Linked DNA regions of Homo sapiens: region 1 is linked to region 2. Evidence: fine-mapped QTL for protein levels in blood plasma. A gene starts in region 2. The other region holds a variant in brackets. All regions are shown on one strand. Distances are from middle to middle. Region 1 overlaps CRADD (CARD and death domain containing adaptor protein). Region 2 holds the start of CRADD (CARD and death domain containing adaptor protein).

What was found. PIP is the chance, under the fine-mapping model, that this variant and not a neighbour inherited with it causes the effect. Protein levels are from antibody-based Olink assays in UK Biobank. Linkage for the fine-mapping came from a reference panel and not from the study's own genotypes, which makes the PIPs less certain.
Region 1: its variant is fine-mapped to the plasma level of the CRADD protein (UK Biobank, PIP above 0.99). The variant lies in the coding sequence of CRADD. If it changes the protein, the assay may bind it differently, which can mimic a change of level.

Annotation. Positions count from the first base shown.
Region 1 is chr12:93,848,253-93,851,170 of GRCh38, forward strand. CRADD (CARD and death domain containing adaptor protein) reads left to right here. Exons shown (of 3, transcript NM_003805.5): 3 at 1,718-2,504. The coding sequence ends at 2,019. Among named protein-coding and RNA genes, the nearest start is that of CRADD-AS1, 110 kb to the left of the region's middle. RefSeq lists an enhancer at 708-807. The variant C/T (reference allele first, on the strand shown) is at 1,825.
Region 2 is chr12:93,675,795-93,678,712 of GRCh38, forward strand. CRADD (CARD and death domain containing adaptor protein) reads left to right here and starts at 1,581. Exons shown (of 3, transcript NM_003805.5): 1 at 1,581-1,678. RefSeq lists enhancers at 822-1,637, 1,426-1,665, 1,638-2,452.

The sequences.
Region 1 (2,918 bases), 170 kb after region 2:
AGTCATTGTTTTTTAAATTGTAGTGTTGACAAACACCAGAAAGAGCCCTTGACAATATTTTTGCAACTCATCTCTAAGGTGCTGGCCGCTGCCCAGAGGCCAAAGACATGGGCTGTGGAAAACATCAGCTCTTGTAATAAGGTGCCTTTGCCTTCTTATTGAATCATAAATCAAAACACAATAGTGGACTGATGAGCATGAAGTAGACTGACCTGAATCCCTGTGATGCTGATGGATGGGAGTATAGTGTACTGTGCTGTCAAACAAATGTCTGAACCTAGCAAATGACTTTGGATGTTTGGAGTCCGTCTCAATCTCTGCACTTGGCTGCTGTGAGTGCCTTTCACTTCCTCCATTGCGATTCTCCTGCCTCTGGGCCTTTGCACATGCAATTCTCTCTTCTCGAGATGCGCCACGCCCTGTTCCTCCTTCATCACCCAGCTCCTCCTCCTAGTGTTCAGGGCTTAGCTTTAGCCTCCTTCCCCTGGAAGGCCTTCCCTAATGAAGTTAGGAGCTCCTCTGTATAACCAAAGGCACTGCTCACTGGTTTTGCTGGGCACATTTATAACCATTCACTCAATGTCATGCTTCTTAGCAGACTGGCCTCAGGCAAATAAGAATCTAGTTCAGGAAGTGTAAGGTCAGATTTCCTCGTTGCCCCGTCTCATACTTCCTGTTCCTCTTCTGGGCTCTGCCAGAACGGTAACTCCACTCTTGTGGCCTCTGCTATGAACAAACCCCGCTCTCTTCCCTTCCTGCTACCCTATGGCCTCTTAGGTTTATTTTGTTCTCAGCAGCCCTCTTGGCTCTGGCTTCTGTTAGCAGCTACACGTTTTCTCGGTAATATTTCAAGTTCAACCTCATCGGCGAGGGTAGCTGTTTGGTTTAGCCTTTGTCCTCTAGCACGTGCCTTTCCTGCAGGGAGGGGCATTCCCAGCCTTGGAACAGGCCCCATCACTAAGGCCACAGACAGTGCCAGAGGGAGCTGGGGTCTGTGCAGCCATTCTTGAATTCCCCCAGAATGCCTTGCCTGGCCTTGAGTAAAAGGGATAGAAGTGAAAAAAGCCTGTTACAAAGCAGCATGTACGAGGTAACCCTTCATGTGTGTTTTATATATCAAAGAAAATAGACTAGTTATTATCAATGAGTTTTTCTGGTGGGATTTCTAGTTATTTTTATTTTGTTGCTTTCAAAGTTTCTGTAACAGGCAGGGTGCTGTGGCTCACGCCTGTAATCCTAGCACTTTGGGAGGCCAAGGCAGGTGGATCACCTGAGGTCAGGAGTTCAAGACCAGCCTGGCCAACATGGTGAAACCCTGTCTCTGCTAAAAATACAAAAATTAGCTGGGCATGGTGGCAGTTGCCTGTAATCCCAGCTACTTGGGAGGCTGAAACAGGAGAATCACTTCAACCCAGGAGGTGGAGTTTGTAGTGAGCCAACATCATGCCATTGCTCTCCAGCCTGGGTGACAGAGTGAAACACCGTCTCAAAAAAAAAAAAAAAAAAAGTTTCTGTAAAAACATTTTCACAGATACTTAACAGCATTGAAGCCCTGAATCATGGCGTTGTACAGAGCAGCCCCCAGGAAGAAGACAAGAGCCAATTGGCTCTGCCATTTGGAAGCATTGCCTTCTTCTCCCCACGATTCTCATTTCTGCCCCCAAATGATGTGTTTGTTGCCTTGCTCATTTCACCGGGGTGTCTTTTTCCTCCTCAGGTGACAGATTGACTGGGATCCCCTCGCACATCCTCAACAGCTCCCCATCAGACCGGCAGATTAACCAGCTGGCCCAGAGGCTGGGCCCTGAGTGGGAGCCCATGGTG[C/T]TGTCTCTGGGACTGTCCCAGACGGATATCTACCGCTGTAAGGCCAACCACCCCCACAACGTGCAGTCGCAGGTGGTGGAGGCCTTCATCCGTTGGCGGCAGCGCTTCGGGAAGCAGGCCACCTTCCAGAGCCTGCACAACGGGCTGCGGGCTGTGGAGGTGGACCCCTCGCTGCTCCTGCACATGTTGGAGTGATGGTGCCTCCAGCAACCGCTGGGGAGTGTGTCCCTGAGTCATGTGGGCTGAATCCTGACTTTCACTCAGAGCAGGTGGTTTTTTGTGTAGGTTTGTTTTTTATTTTTGATGATCTTCAGATGGAAGGAGAAAACAGGGTTTCCACTAGACATTACTTGAAAGGCCAGATTACTCAGCAGATCTCCCATGTTGGCTCAACAATTCTTTGTTTTTAATTGCTTGAAGATTGCATTGTTGTAATTGTTCAGTTTTTAAATGTGTAATGGCATTTTAATAGACTAGTAAATCACAGTGGTTCAAAATATATATCCATATATATATATATCCATATATATATCTCATGTCATCACATTACAGGCAGGTGTCTCATATGTAAAACATTTACCTGAATGTTGTCTGAGGACTGAACTGTGGACTTTACTATTCATAATGATAAAATAATAAAATGCGAATTACTATATATAATGTGCCTCACTCATGAGAAAGTACCGTGTTGGGTTTTTTTTTTTCTTTCTCATTCCTGTGTTGCATAGATTAAGGGTGTAAAATTACAATAGTCTTTTTTTTCTTTTTGGAACAGAATTAATAGTAACAGTGAAATGGTTACTTTCCCAAGTCAGGATAAATAGCTCAGGCAGGATGTCTGTATTAAATATTGTAAGACACTAAAGCTCCCTGCAAAGACCAGTTCAAGGACCAGCATGCATACCCGAGCCCTTCATCTTTAAAAGATCGCTCGAGAAAATCCTGTGCTGTTTATTGAAAGCATTAAGTCAGGGGACGAGAGGGGGTGTGGTCTTTCCATTGAAGCCAGAATGACTGAAGTGTTGTGCTCCTAAGGAGTATGATTTAGTCTTCTGTCCTTTTATCAATAGCACATGGTGTTTATAGAATGCTTT
Region 2 (2,918 bases):
GATACATTGTGAAAAATGTGTCATTGTGCAAACAAAATAGGATGTACTTATGCAAACCTAGATGGTATAGCCTACTACATACTTAGGCCATATAGCATAGCCTATTGCTCTGACCACCATCATATATGCAGTCTGTCATTGACCCAAATATTGTTATGCAATGCATGACTGTAATAATAATAATACTTGCCACATAGGTAAAAATACTGTCATTAACGGTGTAGTAAAATGGTAACTGGCATAGTAATGCTGTAAATTGAATACAATTTTTAGAAGGTTTTGAGGAGGGAGGTTCAGAACTGTTCTCCATTGATTTGCTTAACAAAGATATTTTCATTTTCCACCAAAGGGTTTGGCTGTGAAAACCTTTGCAGAAATAATATTTTAGGAGTTTTTTCCCCCTGTACTGTCAACTGATTTTTAGTAAGCATATGACTTTCTGTATGTATCATCCAATTGATTTAAAAATGAATCAATGAATGTATTTATTGATCGCCTGCCTCGCTTCACAAAGGAATGTGAGGAAGGACACCCAATTTGGCATTGCTGTGTTTCTCTGTATTTGGGTCATGCATTTTTTCTTGCTTTCCACATTGAAAATGTGGTGGATGCAGTAGATTGGCTTTAAGTGTCAGGCCTTCCCTCATTTACTATACCTTTTTGTGTTTCACAAGCTGGAAAGCTACCAACTACATGCTCTAGACATCCTTGCTGCTAATATTCTGCATGTCAGATTGGTCTCACCAATGGCACGCAGCAAAGCAAGATTTGCAGGTGCTGTTTTCTTGCTGCTGGCAAATGCAGCCGTGGAGACCACCGTTTTTTGCAGCACTGTTCCAGTGTCCTGTTAATTGTTCTGTCGGTGTTGAGAGGAGGTTGGGGACCAGGCATGGCAACTTCCTGACGCCATCTTCCTGATTGTGGGCAGCAGCCACAATCAGCAATCTTATCTAGGTAGTCATCCATGGATGTTCAGCTCAGCCCTTCTCCAGCCTTTCCAATGATTTCGAATGTCCCCAATTCCCCCTAACGAATCCCTTTCTGACTAGGAGTAACTAGCTGAGTGCTGCAATGAAATCCTGACTGACAGATTTGTAAACTCTTTGCGGGCAGGAACCCTTGATATAAATAAATGACCTTGCATTTTAATGGAGGGAAGCAGAAGGATAAACAAATGAATAAGTGAAAAGTTTTAATAAGATGGTGATGCGTAAAAAATAAAGCTGGTTAATGGGGAGTGCAGGAAATGAGCGCAGCTGTCTTGCCGTTTTAATCAGATAGGTCAGAGAAGGCTTCTCTACTAGGGTGGCTTTTGACCTGCCTCTCTGTTAGGTCAATTGTGTGCGAGGCCCTGATGGAGTTACTGTGTTAAAATGCAATGATTCAATTACTCCATTACTTAGATACCCTTTAAGTGACACTACGGTTGTCCATCTCCCCGCTATTGAATTGTTTACCCACAGTAAGCATGGCGGGAAGAGCTTCGATCCGACCCTTGAACGCTCAATAAAAATGGCGACAGCACTTCCTGTACTTGCCCTCAACAAAGATGGTGTCAACACTTCCTGTTTAGGGTTTTCGCCATTAACAAAGATGGTGCTTATGGGGCAGGTTCCCTAACAGTCAGGATTCCGGTTGCAGTTTTTCTCCCCCGCCCCAAAGATACGTGGTTGCAGACGTAAGTAACAGGAATCCATCTTTCTTTGAAAGTCCTGCATTGTAGCGTCTGCGACCTGGGCCCTGCGGGGGCTTCCCCGCCCCGCTAACTTGCTCCGCATTTCCGATCCGGGCCAAGGCTGGGTGGCTGCGGCAGTGCCGGAGGCCCGCTCTCCCCTTGGTCCGCTCTTTAGTTCATTCCCAGCACTCCCTCTTTAGCGGGTCAAGTTGCCGCAGAAACCGCCCGTAGTCTTCCTGTTTGATACAAGGGTTTCAGCGGCCGAAGCAGAGCCTTTTTAAATAGTTCCCAATGGGCGCTCACGGCCAAACGTGAACACCTCCCCTCCTCACCTGTCACCTCCTGAACTTTACAGGGTTGCGAGGGGGAGTGTGGGATCGGGTGTCGCCTAGCCGTGGTCGTACTGCCCGGGTGTGTCTGAAGCCCCATCTGTCATCCCTGCCTGCCTTCCCGGTCACTTAACCTTCACTGCCTTACACACAACCAAGCCACAGCACACTGGTGCAGGGGTGGTGGAACTGCACCTTCAAATCGTGCCTGGCTACTGACCAGTGCTGGGGTGTGTGCTTTTTTTGAAAGAAAAAAATCCCATAAAATGTCCCATGCATGTGCGGCCACGACAGTGTTGTGCTGGAGATTCGGAATTCTTAGTGGGAAGGAATGGAGTCTGTGACTGTATATTGTGTAAAGTTTATTGTAGACTGGGCACAAACAACAATTTTCTTAAAGGTGATCGTGTAGAGGACTTTTAGCGAAAAGAGCCTTAAATTCTGAACCTGCTGATTTCTGTCCTGCACTCCTATTACTGATCAGGTTTTGCAAATACTTGTGATCAAAAAAAGGGGACCTGCGTCCACCTTGGCAGTTTCTGCCTTGGTGGTGGTGGTGCAGGTCTGATGAGGGCAATGTGAAAATAAAACCACCATTTCTTCTCCAGCGTGTTAAAATTAGTGCTGCTCTGTAATCTTCAGATAAAAATTGCTTGTTCAGAAGGGTCTCTGACCCACTTTTTTTTTTTCTTTTTCCAAATTTCTTTATTGAACGAGGAATTGAGCTGGGACCCCATTGTGTGAAAAGCAGAAACAGAAAAGATGATTCATCTTCATTGTTGTTCATTATGTTAGGAAACATTCAAAATTAACCTGGCTTGGCTTAATCAGTGAATTAAATACCATGACCTGGCAGTCTGCTATGGTTTAAAGATGTGCTTGACCTGAAGGAACTTACATTGCAGTGACACTGT